2 separate regions of the Homo sapiens genome follow, and region 1 is linked to region 2. Evidence: fine-mapped expression QTL. A gene starts in region 2. The other region holds a variant in brackets. All regions are shown on one strand. Distances are from middle to middle.

The links. PIP is the estimated chance that this variant, and not a neighbour inherited with it, causes the effect.
Region 1: its variant is fine-mapped to the expression of ADGRB3-DT in whole blood (TOPMed, PIP 0.92).

The regions. Positions count from the first base shown.
Region 1 is chr6:68,734,902-68,742,901 of GRCh38, forward strand. All of the region lies in intron 3 of ADGRB3 (adhesion G protein-coupled receptor B3), which reads left to right. Among named protein-coding and RNA genes, the nearest start is that of ADGRB3, 100 kb to the left of the region's middle. The variant T/C (reference allele first, on the strand shown) is at 3,325.
Region 2 is chr6:68,630,486-68,638,941 of GRCh38, forward strand. ADGRB3-DT (ADGRB3 divergent transcript) reads right to left here and starts at 3,839. Exons shown (of 2, transcript NR_125872.1): 1 at 3,700-3,839; 2 at 2,178-2,571. It overlaps ADGRB3 (adhesion G protein-coupled receptor B3), which reads left to right and starts at 4,797. Exons shown (of 32, transcript NM_001704.3): 1 at 4,797-5,515; 2 at 6,906-7,077; 3 at 8,176-8,456. The coding sequence starts at 8,191. LOC127898563 reads left to right here and starts at 5,405. Exons shown (of 1, transcript NM_001414704.1): 1 at 5,405-5,482. The coding sequence starts at 5,405. The coding sequence ends at 5,482. RefSeq lists a silencer at 4,536-4,745.

The sequences.
Region 1 (8,000 bases), 100 kb after region 2:
AGAGTTTAACTTGGGTTTCTACTAGGGATTTCAGCACTTGAAGGAATAAAGTGAAGTGATAAAAACATAGAGATGACACAGGGTCAAATAATACTATGAAAATATGGAATACTAGTGCAAAGATTGAAGAAAATTTCTAATATTATAATAGCTTATGTCACTGACCATAATTTAAAAGCTATGTATTATTGTATTCTACATATATAAATATGTATTTTTATTTTTTTACTTGTAATGAGAAACCAAAGCTTTTAAATTAGGAGTCAATGACATAAGCATGATCAAAAATATTGTCGAATGAATGAATAATTAAGTTAAATTCCAGAATGAAGGTTACTTAAAATATAAAATACAAATAATTTAATCTAAGACATACGTGAAAAAATATGTTTGCCTATTTTCTGAAAGTTTCATCAGTGCTTGGAATAGCTAACATATTTTTAATTTTCTACAATAGAGAATAAAGTGATGATACAATTGAGAGGAATTAAATTGAATTAGAATTATATACTGTGTAAATATATATGATAGATAAGAATATAGGAAATCATTTACAAATTAGAAATAGAAAAGATATCTATTAATTTATTATGCAAGTATTTGGAAAGTACCAGAAAGATGATGTTGATTTAAGAATATAGTTGTGCTCATATATTGATAAATTTAAATTTGTCAAATTAAACTGATTAAAATTTTTGGAACTTTTTAGCATTCTAAGTTTTGAGGTTATAATGAAATTATGAGGAAAATGCTTTTAAACTGAATAACCCAGGGATTGTCTTTTTACCATGCTTGTGTGAGATCATTATTCCATGGACGCTTATGGCATTAGACTGAATTGATTTTATAGAGAAAAAGAACTCAAGATTGCATAAGCCCATATTAGCAGCAAATTCCTAATATCTAAGTTTCTTTCTGTCTTAAAATAGATGAATTTTTCCATTTCGATGAAAGGTTTTGGATGAAAAGATTTTGCAGTCTTTATAGAGCAGCAATCACTGAGTGCTACAAAATATTTTATTACATTTTTTTGCCTTGAATTTTGCATTATGGGTAAAGAACTGTGTGACTTAAAATAGCTTACCAATCTTTCAGGAAGTTAGAAAATATTTCATTGTTGTTGATTTAGAGACTGAGTCTTGTTCTGTTGCCCAGTTTGGAATGCAGTGGTATGATCATGGCTCACTGTAGCCTCAAGTTCCTGGGCTCAGGAGATCCCTCCTGCTTCAGCCTCTCCTGTAGCTGGGACTATAGGCACTTGCCAACATGACTGGCTAATTAAAAAAAAAAAAAAATTTATAGAGATAGGGTCTCTCTTTGTTGCCCAGGCTAATCTCAAACTCCTGGGCTCAAGCTATCCACCCGGCTCAGCCTCTCCAGTGCTAGAACTAGAGGCGTGATCCGCCATGCCCAGCCAGAAAATAATTCTTTAAAAATTTTACAACATAATTAACATTGAATATCTCTATTGTAATAAAATATAATAAACTGTATTAAGTGGCACTCTACTTATCTGCAATTGCTGATGTCAGTTGACAGCAAGGTTTGTTTTCCCACAGTGTGAGTGTCTCTACTAATTAGACTTAATTAAATGCAGATATATTACTGTTCTGTGTAAGATTTCAATGAGGACTTTGAGAAAAAGATCTCTGGATGGATAACAGAGAGAGACTGAAGCTGGAAAGCCTTGAAAAGTCCCCAAAACAAGACTAAGAAGCTTTTAGAGGACTTGTGCACTTAGAGATGACCAAAAGAGAATGAAGATTAAATTTTGCAAAAATAAAATGCTAAATATTGAATAAATAATTTTAGTTGCTTAGTTAATATAGTATCTTACAATTTTTCTATGTTCCTAAGGGAAGCAGGAACATATTTAAAATTATTATTTTTACATTTTTTAATACAGAAAAGTTTATCCCAGTACCTAGAAGCTGGGTCACTAATAATGACAACTATTAGTCACTACTAATAGTTGCTTTATTTTCTGTCAGTTTTTCTCTCTTTTTTAACAACTTGAATTAGTCATGTTTAGTATTTTAATATGTTACACCTTTTGATAAGGATATTTTCCCTCAATAAGTTGTAATAAACATTTTCCCATATAGTAGCAAATATTACTTACGGCTATGTTTTAATCTGTGAGAAAAGTATAATTTGCTTAAATTTTATTTGTGGTCATTTTTAGTAATGTTCCAGTATTATAAAAATGTTAAGAATAAATGTTTTCATGCTTAAATTTGTATATGCATCTTAGATTATTATTGCTCATCAGTGGAGTTACTGTATTAAGAGTTATGAATCAAGTATAAGAATTGTATCAAATAATTGTCCCTCTGCCAGGAGCCAGCTCTCCACATCCTTCATAGCACTGAGTATTTTGTGGTTTGTTATTTAGTAGGGAAAAAAGACATTCTTTTTTTGCATTTATTTAATTACTAGTGATGTTGCACATTTTTTCACATGTTTAAGGGATGTGTATAATTTTTCAATGGTATTTTTGTCATTACTTGATGTAAACCTCCATTTTGAATATAAGAACATTGTTTCTCAATAATAAGTGTTTTGATTCCTTTGAGCTGGAATCAGAATTGAAGTTCAGGTCTTCAGACTCCAAAATTGCAAGTTCTTGCCACTTGTTCCCCCATACAATAAGAATATTATTATCAAGCACTAAATAGACAACAAGAAGTGGAGTGACTGTAGAGACCCAAGATTGGAAAGTGGGTTCAGGAGAACTGTGGGCCCTGGAATAAGACAGTCCAAACATAAATTGTCCATGTTCCTTTATGAGCTTGTAATCTCGTCGTTCTCAATGATTACAAATCAGCTCAGCTTCCTATAAATGACTCTTCCAAAGGAAAGCCAAAAAAAAGGTTAGACTGAAAGTCTTCAACAATAAATATTTACTGAATTCTTCCTACCGGGCAGGTACTACTTCAGGGCCTAAGAGCACAACAAAGTAGCCAAGAAATACCTGCTTTATGAGAGTTCAGGGTTTAGTGGGTGAGGCCAAAAATAAATATGTTAATCAATTAAATCTATGCGTATAATCACAGTTGGTGAAGTGTTATGAAGAAAAATAAAGGAGAAAGGGAAAGGTGTTGCTAGGGAGAATGGACAAGTTTGACTAAAGTGATCAAGAAAGACCTTACTAAGAAGAAATTGAGAGCAAAGATCTGAAAGGGAATAAGGATGAGCCATGCTAATGTTTTGGGATAAGGGTTCTCATCAGAAGAAATGGCAAATGCAAATACATAAAACAAAAGCATTGCTGGGAATTTGGAGGAAATGCAGGAAAGCCATTGTGGCAAACTCAGGAAGCCA[T/C]TGAGGCTTGTGCAAACTGATAGCAGATGAGATCTCAGTGGTGAGGAGAGAGAGAGCACTTGTATTACCTTGCAGGCCAGTATGAGGACTTTGGCTGTCTCTCTGAGCAAAATGGGGACTGACTGGAGGATTTTCTGTCAAAGAGTGACATTATCTGACATACATTTTAAATGGCCCATAGACTGAGAACAGCTGGGGGACAAAGCTAGAAGCAGGGAGATGAATTAGGGGGGAAATAAGTTGGGAGGCTATTTCTATAACCTAGGGGTGAAAATGACAGTGGACTGAACAAAGGTGATAATTTTGGCTAGAGGGAGAAGGTCGTGAAGATAATGAGAAATTATTTGAGTCTGGCTATGTTTTGAGGGAAGAACCAACAAGATTTCCTAAAGTATAAAATATGAAAATAAGAGTTATCAACAAAACTGACGTTAAGGTTTTTGGCATGAGCAATTTTAAGAATGGAGTTATTTTCTGAGATGAGGAAAAAACAAATTTTGCAGGAAGATTACTAGTTTGATTTGGGTCAAAGTAAGTCTGTGATGTATATTTCACATTCAAATAAAAAGTTTCAGAGGGATGTCCAAATAAAGATTAAAATATGGGAGCTGTCAGTGGATATTTACAGTTACAAAATTGTATAATCTTACCAAGAAAGTGATTGTAAATAGAGAAGGGGTCTGAGGATTATGATCTGGGTCACTCCAACAGATTGGGGACATGAAGAGGATACAGGAAAGGAGACTAACATGAACTGGTCAGTAAGGTAAAACACTAAGAATGTGATACCTTATATGTCAAGTAAAAGGAACAGGTGCAAGCAAATGTTTCAAATTCTGCTATTGGTCAACTAAAATGAGGACCAATCATTGACTACTGACTTAGAAACGTAGCGATCATTGATGATGACCTTACCAACAATACTTTACCTCTGGTGCAATTTTAAAAGGTAGAAGGCTGAATGACCTGAATGGATTGGATTTAAGGGTAAATACGAAGAAAGGGATCGGAAGCAATGAGTAAGGAAAGATCTTTGTAGGAATTTTGTTGGAAAAAAGAACTGGCAAATTAATTGTATATTGGCAAGGTATGTGTGGTCAAGTGAGGGTTTTGTTTAGTTTTAGTTGGGAGAAAGTTTTTCATGTTTTTATATGCTTACTAGAATTTCTGCAGAAATTGAAAAATGATTACATAGGAAACAAAGAGAATAAGAGCTTGTCTTTAGGTAGGTAAGAGGGGATGGGGCCTGATGCACAATTGGAGGGATTTTCTTCAGATAGCAGAATGAAGGGAGATGAGAGAAGTCAGAGTGCACAGGTCTAGATGCAGGTAGGTGATAGACATGATGGTGAGAGCCTTTGGCAACTCTGTTCTATTTGTTTACATTTTTTGAGAATAAACAGCTGAGAGTGAGGATAGCAGGTGTTTAAGATATGGAAAGAGAGGAGAAGTGAAATAGTTGACCAGAAAAGAGAGTTAATCTGATTTATTTTCTAAAAAGAAAATTACTGTGGTACTAAATGAAATCTACAGAATGTTTACATATTCAAATTGTAGGTTAATTATGAACACACATCAAGCCATCACATAGTTAGCTGTAGAGTTTAAGCCATCAATAGTCATTTAGTTTCATTATCTCACTTGTTTGGTTTTAATTAACTTTCTATGTTTTTGTTTAACTTTGTGTACTATTAGTATCGAAAGGTTGTAGCTTGTTAATAGAGATGCTTATTTAGCATTTTCAAGTGAAAAACAACATTAATAACAGGTACAACATTATTATTAATAATAATAATGCCAATTATTCAGAAGTGGCAGGTCTATACAAAACTCTCTGACACTCTATTTTATCAGTTATTTTATACTTGATTAGGCTTATATAACATTTTCTACTTCTGCAATTTTCTGATAATTAATAAAGAATTTCCTTTACACAAATCTCAGGCTTTATTTTAGGGAATGGAAGTCTGTGCTACTAAAAATTGCATAGTGTTGTGTGTCTGGGCAGGCTTTTCAAAGACCTCTGTTATCACTTATATCCAAAGTGATAAGTCTGGGCGTGGTGGCATAGGCCATAACTCCAGAACTTTGGGAGGCTAAGGCAGCAAGATCGCTTGAGCCCAGGAGTTGGAGACCAGCCTGGGCAATATAGTGAGACCTGGTCTCTATAAAGAAAAGAAAATGTGATAAATAGGAAACAAATATCAATAAGAAGCAAGTAAATATTCTTATGGGTAATTAGAGCATCTTTAAGAAAAAAACATCAATTTGTATCAATAACCTTGGATGAGAATATGGTAGAAGGGTAGATTTTGGACTAGATACAACTGTTTATTAAAAAAATTCCAATTTGGCTACTAAGAATGAAGCATATATTTCATAGGAATCATGTCCTTGTATGGGCCACAATGTCAGTGTTAATTTTTACATGTTATTATAATATATGCATGCAATGGTTTTAAAATTGTCCCTTAACAATATTATGTGTTAGTAAAACATAATATTTATTTATCCATTATGTTGTGCAAAACTACCTTTGGTGTATCTATAGAAGGATGTCAGAAATACTTTATAGGATTTAAATTGGGGCAAAACCGTTTGTTTCATTTCTTCTATTCCCTTAACAAAGATAAAGTGAGTTTGTTTGAACTGGAACATAGTTAAGTGTTGATAGGCCATGTCAGTCTTCTGTATGAACTCCTCACCCCCACCAACTTCCTGTTTCTCTGAAGTGCATGCATACAGTGATATATGTTTTGGTTTTCTAAGAAGGGAAAGGAAGCAGAAGAATACAGAATGAGCTTGTGAGTTTTGAAACTTTGGGACAAACATGGAAGTTGGTGAAAAACCATTTGTCAGTTTGCTTGACAGGAAAAAAAAATGAAACAAATGCATGCATGGACACAAAATGGTGTATCTAGTGTCTGCATAGGGCTTCCTATGTGCTAGGCACTATTACAAGTGTTTACATTTGTTAACACATTTAATTCTCATGAAACTACCACAACAAAAACTATTTTTATCCACATCTTACAGATTATGAAACTAAGGCACCCGGAGATAAAGTAACCTCCTAAAGGTCAAAGGTCACATAGCTATCAAATGTGAGAGCTGGTATTTGAATACAAGCAGTCTGGCTTTTTTTAAATTTTTTTTAATATTTTATTTTTGAGACAGGGCCTGGCTCTGTTGCCCAGGCTGGAGTGCAGTGCTGTGATCATGCCATCATGGCTCAACTGCAACCTCCACCTCGCCAGCTCAAGCCATCCTCCAACCTGAGCCTCCCGAGTAGCTGGGACTACAGACATGTGCCACTATGCCCAGATAAACTTTTGTAGTTTTTGCAGAGGCAGGGTTTCACTGTATTGCCCACGCTGGTCTTAAACTCCTGAGCTCAAGTGATCCTCCCACCTCACCCTCGCAAAGTTCTGAGACTACAGGCTTGAGCACTGTGCCTGCCCTGGCCTTCTTAACCACTGTTTGTTACCTTTTCTATCATAAGTATAGAAGAGTAATCTAATATCAAACTGGCTGATTAAGGTGACAGGTTGAATTATTGTCATCAGTTTTTTACAACCTAAACATTTTTGCTTCTGATGAAATGTTCTTTAAAAATTCTTTTCAGCATTCCTTTTTGCATTCTTCTTCTTATAACGTTTTAGCTAAATATGCAAATTCATTATCATTCACGAGTTCACATGTTGTTTAAGTAGGAAGGACCACATGGGAAAATTCATAAAAACTTTGAACACAAGTTTCTGTGTTAAAAATGCAAAGAACTGAATGTTCATATATCTTTTGTTTGAAGAATTTAGCTTAAAATATGAAGAAAACTACATGGAAACACTTTCCCTGAAATAAGTTAAAATTGTGATGTCATTCACTGACTATTATTGCTTTGCCACTGACTTCTGAAGAAATCCTAGGAGATAAATTGCTTGTGGTGTTTTCTCCCCAGTCTTATCACAAGTCATTGCTAATGAGTGGCTTCTTCATGATGTAAACTAGTTTCAAATTCAGCATATATTGTAATTCTTCCAGTTCTCATTAAGCACACTGTTTATATATTATGTCTCAACATAAATATATGAATGGAAATTTAATCCTTTCTATGACAGGTCATACACATTTTAAAGGAACTCTTATAGTTTTTTTTTTCTTTCTCTGGGTCTTGACTCTGACAGAGGGGAAAAAGAAAAATAAAAGCACTATCTATATTAATCATTCTCAGGAATAAGGCTGATTCTTTGAAAAGTGAGTTGTTATAGTTGAAAGGACAGGTTTAAAATTTGGATTAGAAATTGAAACCTGACTCCTCTGCTTCCCACATCTGCACCACCCAAAGAAGTCACTTACTCTCAATAAACAGAGAATAATAAATGCCTACCACATAGATTTTCTGTGAAGGTTAAGTTAGAATAAAGGAGAGGTGAATATTTCACCACAGTATTTGGCACTAAGCAGGGAATCACTAAATGTTAAATCATCCTAAAATATTAATTGAAGTCTTAAGAAATAATGTGATAATAAAGTAGCCACGTAAACTTCTAGATATTGTTTTTCCTCAAAAAGGAAAATAAACTAAATGGTGTGAACATTAAAACATCTATTAATATTTTATATAGTGGGATACATGTAATTTTAATATATTTTTTATAATTTTCTATTTTTTCCTA
Region 2 (8,456 bases):
AGAGATAAGTGGATCAGAATTGGTAGAAACAGGACTGAACATGAATAAATGTTCAGAAATAATAGGTAGTCCATAGACTTCAATACCTGGTGTTGATAAAGCTCAGCAGATGTGCTGTTCCTGGCAGCCTTAGTTATTGTCATCATTAATGATAAAGTGGGACTTCTGTCAAAGAAAAAAATTATCAGAGTGGGAGAGGAATAAAAATGGAAAGGACTGTCTGTACCTCAGAAGATGATAGCAAGGGAGAAAGGCAAAGCTAGTAAAACTATGGAGGTTTTCAAAATTGTGATAGAATAGAGAGGCATTTCCAACCTGTGAGTGGGAAAATTGTGATTCTTTCTAGTCTAGGATTTAATTGCATTTTTCTCTCACTGCTTCCATTTCTTGTGAGACACCTTCTGTTATTTAGACTATGTCAGGAAGAGCCTTAGACATTATTCAATCAAGCTCTTTTCTGTGAGATAACTGAAGTCCAGAGAATTCATAGCTTCTTGTCCTTAATGAGGTATATACTTAGTGTCAGTTTCGTGAGTAAAAATGAAGAATCTTGATTTCTAGTATAATTGAAATTTCAGGGATTAAAGATAATGGTGTAAGTATAGTAACTTTATATGAGAAAATAACTAGCTGAAAAAGGTCAAATTTGGGGGTGAATGTATGTTCGATTGCAAACCCATATTTTGAGGTTTTAAAGTCCATATTTTCCAAGATACTTCTACAGCACACAAATATGACATTATGTGTTACCTACTTACAGCATTTCCTTAATATCACCAATGAAATCTTGAAAATTGATGGCCAAAAGTATTTACCGACTTTTTTTTAACTTGTATCGTTGTATAGGGAAATAATGATAAAAAATGGAAACCTGATGCAACTGGGATTTTTGTAACCTTGACTTTGCCTAGCATGGAATAGGACTACACTTGAACTAACCCAGGATAGCTGTTCTATGACATCTCCCTTAACCCCAAGTCTATCCCTTTATTTTTTAGTACTTCAATGTACTTTCTATTCTGGGATGTCCAAGTAGAAAATGACCAATTTGTTTTTTTACATAGAGACTAGAGGATATACAGCTTGGTTTCTGAGAGACTTCCTTTTTTAATAATAATAAAATAATGATAATAAACAGGAGACAGAGGAGAAGAAGTTGTTTAACTTTATAGTAAATATGCTAATATTAAGGATAAGTTCTCATAACAATGTAATCTTGTAATATTTTGATCATTTAATTAACATTCCAAAGCTTTGTGTATGTGTGTGTATATATATGTGTGTGTATATATGTATGTGTGTACATATATATGTGTATATATATATGTGTGCATATATATATATGGGAGATACTAAATACTAAATACTAAAAACTAAATACTAATACTAAATACTAAAAAATTAAGGCATATTTAACAAGAAATAACCTACAAACCTATCCATGCTTCTTAAAGCCTTACTGAAAATAACAAGTCACAGAGTTTAGAATGTGGTAATACAGTAATATCAGAAAAACTATGACAGAAAGAAGGAAAGAGAAAATACTTTCTAAAATTGAGTAAACATATTCTAGAAACATTCTTATTTGAGTATGAGAATTCTGCAAATGATACTGAATTTTAAGCAATGATCCTGGATTATAGGGTTATTCTCAAAGTGGAGGGACTAAACTTAGCACATACAGACAAAAAGATGAAACAGAAATAAATCACACTTATAACCTCATCATTCCAAAGTAATCTTAATAAAATAATAGCAGGAGAGATAAATTTGAAAGGCTTTAATATTAGATACCTGGGTCAATTTAAAATGCCATACCAGACTATATTTTGATGTGCTAACACTGACCTCTCAATAGTTCTTCTGTAAATCATCAAGGAAACTTATGTAATAATCAATTTATACAATTAATGTGGTAGTTTTGGAATTAAATGCATTACCTTATAAAAGAGAAATACAAAGCAATGTAGTGAAACTTCCCAAGCAAATATATGTGTATCAACTGAAATACACATATACATATCATATACATATATATACACACACGTGTATGTGTACTTACAAATAATGCGTGCATACATATACATATGTATGTATAAAATATGTGTATATGTGTTTATATATGTAAACATAAATATAGACATAGACTTGTGAAAGAGACCAATGAAAGCAGATAATTATAATTTGAAATGGTGATTTTAATATGTATTCAGTCATAAAAGTGGACCAACATCAATAGAAAGGAAAGGACAGAGAGCTGAGGGTGTGTAAACTGCTGCTCTCTTTTTGCTGTTGGGTCAACATGTCAGCAATGCTTTCATATGGAGCAGCTTGCAGACATGAAACAAGGTGGTTCCTCCTTTCTTTGCCTTTGGATTGTGCTGTTGTTAGTGTCCAGAGACCAGACTGTCCATATAGGGTTCTTTTTGTGATTCTTTATTATAATCCCCTGAGGAAGTCAGACGAGCCTGGGGTTACTGGAGACAGTGTCTTGCTTGGCGTAGTTATCATCCACAAATCATCTGCTATAAATATATCTCAGAAGGATCATCATCAGGCCAGCTCAGTAGCCTGCAATTTATGAAGGTTATGAGAAACAATGTGAAGGGTGAAGCGCTTTATTAAGGGTGGCTTTCTTTTCTGACCCTGCCCTGACTTCTACTTGAATATAAATGATCCTGGGAGTAAGTGAACCTTTCCATTTAGGATTTAGGCTTTTAAATTGTCCCTTTCAGCTGTTATTCTTATGCCACTGTGTCATGACTTTAAGAATTTCTAAGAAACATCAAAATCAGTGTTACAAGATAATATGAGAAATCACTAGATGCAAAATAGAGGTATAACTGAACCTCACATTACATTCTTTCCTTTTTATGTATAAACCATCCAAAGCATTTTTTCCTCCGTTTTTATTCCACATCTGTCATGCTTTTTTTTCCTCTGGATAAAGTAACAGAACTGACCAAATTGCCTTGCGAAAATCATAATTACGATCTCTAGGGAAGTTGAAATAAATAAAATGTTTTTCTCCTTTGTGTTGCTCAATGTTCTTTGTTTTTAAAAGAAAATGTGTTGCTTAAACGGTGTTTCAAAATTTGTTCTGGACATAAACCCTAATTATTTCCTTTTAACATTTCCTTAAATGAATAAAAAATATTGTAAAGAACCAAAATGACACAAAACCAAAATGCCACCCAGGCTGCTCTCTTGCCGGTGATTTGTTACTGGGAAAATAGTTAAAGCCTGCTGGGGAATTATTAACTGTTTCCCCTTACAGTGTTTATCCCAGGCATTCGTTTAAGACGGGAAAGCCTTGAAGAGGGTCACTCTATTAATATGCATTAAGAAGTAAAGGACCAATTTTAATATTTCAAACAACTCCAGTGGATAACAGACCATAAACTTCCTGTTTTCACTATCAATCTCTTTTAAAATGGTGTTCTTGGCTATCCATAATCGCCCCAGGGGAGAGAAACAAGCGGAGGAAAAAAATGCAAGAGTGAGGGGAACAAATGATGGAAAATTGCTTTATTCAACTTCACCTGCCGCTCGAGAAACTCACCCTTACGAAGATTCCAGCACTTTATATGAATTACCCATTATGGTTTCCTCCCACCACATCACTGCACTATTTTAGCACTTGTTTTGCAAACCACCAACTGCGTTTACAAGTAGAAACATAATCAGGAGGCGAATGACCTTTTGTAGCATGTATCTGAAGCTGGTTTATCAGACACTTCGTCAGCCAACTGTCCAGGAGGCAAAATGACTATCTATGATGATAGATAGACAGACAGATAGATAGTTAGATTAAAAGGTGGGGAAACATCCCTTTTCCCTTTTTCCTTTCTATATAATCTGGTTTTTTCTCTTCACCCCTTTTCTCGCTTCTTCCCACCCCGTCCCCAAACCTGTTACTAGGGAAACTTGAAAAAGAATCAGATACATTAAGACTACAAAACGAAACAAAAGTTTAGACCCCGAAACCATGATTCCATTGCCAAGCACAAAGCAATGCAAGAGCCCAACGTCGGTCGCCGCACCGCGATCCTGACAAAGCCTGTATGGAGCCAGAACAAATAAGATGTTAATTGCAGCCTCGCAGAGAAAAAAATACTATTGTTCCAGCCAGAGACACTCAGCAGCTCGGTAGCTGGGATGTGCCCCCTCCGCTGCGGACTGGATCAATTCTGAATCCCGGTACTGAAATGACAGCTCTCTGGCTGCGACAGGTCTGCGCTGAAAGAAAGAGAAAGACGATCAAGTCCAGCATTCACTTCCCACCCTTCAGAGTCGCCTTCCCATCCTCCGCACCCCCCTGCCTCGCCTCCCAGTGAGTTTCTCTTACAGTTGGTCGCCGCCAGCCCCAGCGGTGGGAACTGAGGATGCAAAAACCTCCCAGACGCAGAAAATACCGCTTTCGGGACGTGCTTGGGTTTGAGTAGCCGTGACGTGCAGGCGAACCGCGGCCCTGGCTGGAGCTCCGTGGAGCCCCCCTCCCGCCAGCCTCTCCCCCGCCCTCCCGCCGGGACTCCCTCCTCTCCCACCCCGCGGCTCCCTTCGCCTTCTCTCTCACACACCCGCCCGCGCCCCCGGCAGGCAGAACTCCAGGAAGTCGCAGCGGCCGCGCCGCGCGAGCCGAGCCTCTGGCGGGCGGCGGGGCGCACCGCAGCTGTGCATAAGAAGGGCGCGCGGCACCCGGGACGCGCGCGCACACGAGCACGCGGGAGGCCGCCGCGCGGACGCGCTCCCGGGACACGCGCACCCCCCGCGCGCGCGCCCAAGGGAGAGCGAGCACTGCGCGCCGGCGCGCACACCCGAGACAGAGCTTTACTATCTCGCTCCCTCTCGCGCCTCCCTCCTCGCTGGGCATTCAAACAGCTTTCCGACATCACCAGCCAAGGATTTTTTTCCCCGCTCTCCTTAGTCGCCGTCCGTCCATCAGTACCTGCAGGGGGGAGGAGGAGGAGGGAGGAAAGCGGAAAGAGGAAAAAGCATAAGCTTGAGCCTTCCGATCCGACCACGAATACTCCTGTAATAAACCCACCGCCCCAACAAATCTGCCATAGCAGCCGCCGCCGCCGCCGGTCACTTCTCGTCTCAGCGCTTTCTTTGCTTCTTGGTTTGTTGGGGGTAGCTTTTATGAAACAAATCTTTGCTATTAAGCCACTTACATTTTGGGGGGTTCCTTAGAGTCTCCCTTGGGGGGGCTTCTCCCTCCCTTTAGCCCCCCTCGGTTTGGAGGTTGGATTCAGTTGGATACGGCGCAAGGTTCTGGGCTCCTGCTGGCTTTTTTTTCCTCTCTCTCATCGACCCCCCTTTGGTTCCCACCCCCCACCTTTTGCTTTTCGTATGTATGCATTTTTAAAAATAAATCCTGATTTTGGAAGCTGAGCCGGGGAAAATGGGCAACGGTGATTGGGACCGAAGGGGAGTCTCTCCGTCACTGTTGCTGGGACGCGTGCCTGTGCTGGTGTCTTAGAGCAAGAGCCTCCCTGAGCTTTCGGAGTGGAAGGTAAGGAAGGGGGTCCAGGGGTCACCTTTTCTCTGCCGGGGGTCGCCACCGTGGAGCTTTGGGCTTAATGTTTGAGAAGGGAGGAAAATGAAAGGAAAGGCTGTTGCTGGCGGATGGGGAGGCTGTGAGCAGATCCGACTGTCTGCATTTACTTAAACGCCGCAGTTGAAAAGTTAGAGAAGTCTGGTTTTCAAGAGATGTGCTGGGTCAGAAGGAATAAGCGGAGAGACCTAGAAAATCTGGCAGTTTTGTGTGATTGGGGTAATTTTATGAGGGGAAAATTTTAGGTTAAAAGGAAGTTAAGAGAAGGCAGTGGGTCTTCTATTGGGGGGAAAAATCTGTGGAGTGATGGCGCCGTCTATGTTCGACTAAACTAAAGTGTCACCCAGAAAATCAGTTTTGAGAATAGCTAAACTCAATGCTGGTTTGCTTCTCAGCAAGAGATAAATAAATAAATAAATAAATAAATAAATAAATAAAACATCCTTGACACCTCCGTGGCCAGCCTTTGCCCCCGCCCCCACCCCTTCTTTAAGAGGGAAACACGGCTTTTTGAACGGGCCCTGCAGTCCAAAGGGGGGTGAGGGTAATGATTTATTTTTTATTATTTAGAACAAAATAAGACTGTGTACTCCAGACTGATTAAAAATAAAGAGCATTATATTGAGTGCGCTCTCTTGAGCAGGCATTAAAGTGAATTCAGAGCTATTTCCTCACTCTCTGATCATTGATGAGCACGGCATTGCAGACATGCACTGTCAAATAAATGAAAGCAAAAGTACCAATTTCATTAGGAAAAGACATACGACCTCTTTTTGAGTTCCTGATTATAAAATGAAGTCCCCTTTCATGGATGGAATTCCTAATTTAGACACTTATTGTCACATTGGCTCTCAACGCCTACACTCTATCCTGAAGAACACTGCGCAGACCTGCATTGCCTGCAAAGTGCAACACCAAAAAAAAAAAAAAAAAAAGGAAATTATTTCCAGAATTTCTTACAACTTTCTCTGTTTTTTTTTAACCTTTAAATGCTCATTGGCTTTATTTTCTCATGAAGAAAATGCATTATTCATTGAGCTATTTGCTTGAAACAGAGAACACTGTTTTGATGGTCCCAGCAGTTCTGATGTTATTTTAAACTGCTGCTATATAGAGATTTAGAGTTGGGGCTGTGTTTGCCTATATCAAGACATAGAATTTGAATTATAATCTGGAAAATGCAGATCTATCTTCAGGGACTTCGGTCACTGGATTTGGTGTGCATGCGTTGGTGTGTGTTATGCAATGGGAAGGAAGAGGGTTTTATCCTTTGATTCAGAGAAGACCCAGGCAAAGGCATGAAAACTCTTAACTATCTATATGTCTGTATGTCTGTCTCTGTTTACAGAACAGTGGAAGAGACTGCAGCCTAAAGACTTTTAAAATTAACTTGGCATCACTTTTATCAGCTCAAAGGCTAAACAAACAAACAAAAGCAGTGTCATTTATTCTAAGAAATAACTTCTTAAAGGTTAAAGCTGAAAAATATTCAAGTTATTTTTGGATAACAACTTACAGAGGTAAATATAACCAAGGACTACTTTATTATCCAAAGCCAGGGTTAAAATTAAAAAAGAAAAGAAAAGAAAAGAGGAGCTTTGGAGTTGTTGTTGGAAAGGGAGCAATTTAATAATTGAAATCTGCTAGGAACAAAAATGTTAATGTATTTTATTACCATGTGTAAGCCTTAAATTACAGTTGATAAGATAATTTTTCAAAAATTAAAAGACTGAAACCAGCTCAATTACTATGGTTCTGGATTTTTTTTTTTTTTAACTGATATCACCTTTGGATACAGATACTAATACAGTGATCCACTTTATGTATCCCAAAAGGGCATGTCACATTGAAATGACTGCCCTAAATCCTGGTTCTCAATGGTGATGTTGAACAACAAGTCTTCCCTATGTATTTATCCATCTATGCCCTTTCTCAAATGATGGTTTTAAAATTAACTAATCCACATGAATGCCCATGTTTTTGCAAAGGAATTTCTGAGCAGTTCACATGGTGGCCCCTGCAAAGGCAAGTGGGGCATTTGGGAGATGATGTTCCATCTGTAATAAATTATTATTTGTGCTTTTAAAATTGTGGCCATAATTTATCATCATTACTTTTCACGTTTAAGAGGAGAGAAATAATGTGATGACAGCTGTTCCCAGATTATCAGATTAGATTTTGTATGATAGTGTTTACCGCAGAGGACAGAGAGAGAAAAGGTTGTATAGACTATAGACTGATTAATACTATTTCGACAATTAACATTTACATTATGACGTTTTAAAACTCCATGTTTTCCCTTTTCATTCGATAGAATGATAATGGACGTGGAGGATATCCTAGTAGATAAGTTAGGGCATTCCTATTAATAATCTATTAAATGTTATTTTTAAATTGAATGTTGCGAATTTGACCATTGTGAATGGCCACATGAGGGCGCTGTTCACACAGCAACAGATAATTTTCCTGTGTTATAAAATAAAAATTACCTGCCCTTCTTTTAAAAAGGGCTTTTTACTGAAATCTTGAAAACAGCTGGCTGTAATATTGAAAGGAGTTTATTTTCTCAATGCACGTAGACTCCTACTTGCATTTTACTTTCATTGCCATTTTTACAGGCCAAATGACATAGGATGAAGGCTGTTCGTAACCTGCTGATTTATATATTTTCCACCTATCTCCTGGTTATGTTTGGATTTAATGCTGCCCAAGACTTCTGGTGTTCAACTTTGGTGAAGGGAGTCATTTATGGATCGTATTCTGTAAGTGAAATGTTTCCTAAAAACTTTACAAACTGCACTTGGACGCTGGAAAATCCAGATCCAACCAAATATAGCATTTACCTGAAATTTTCCAAAAAGGACCTTAGCTGCTCTAACTTTTCACTCCTGGCTTATCA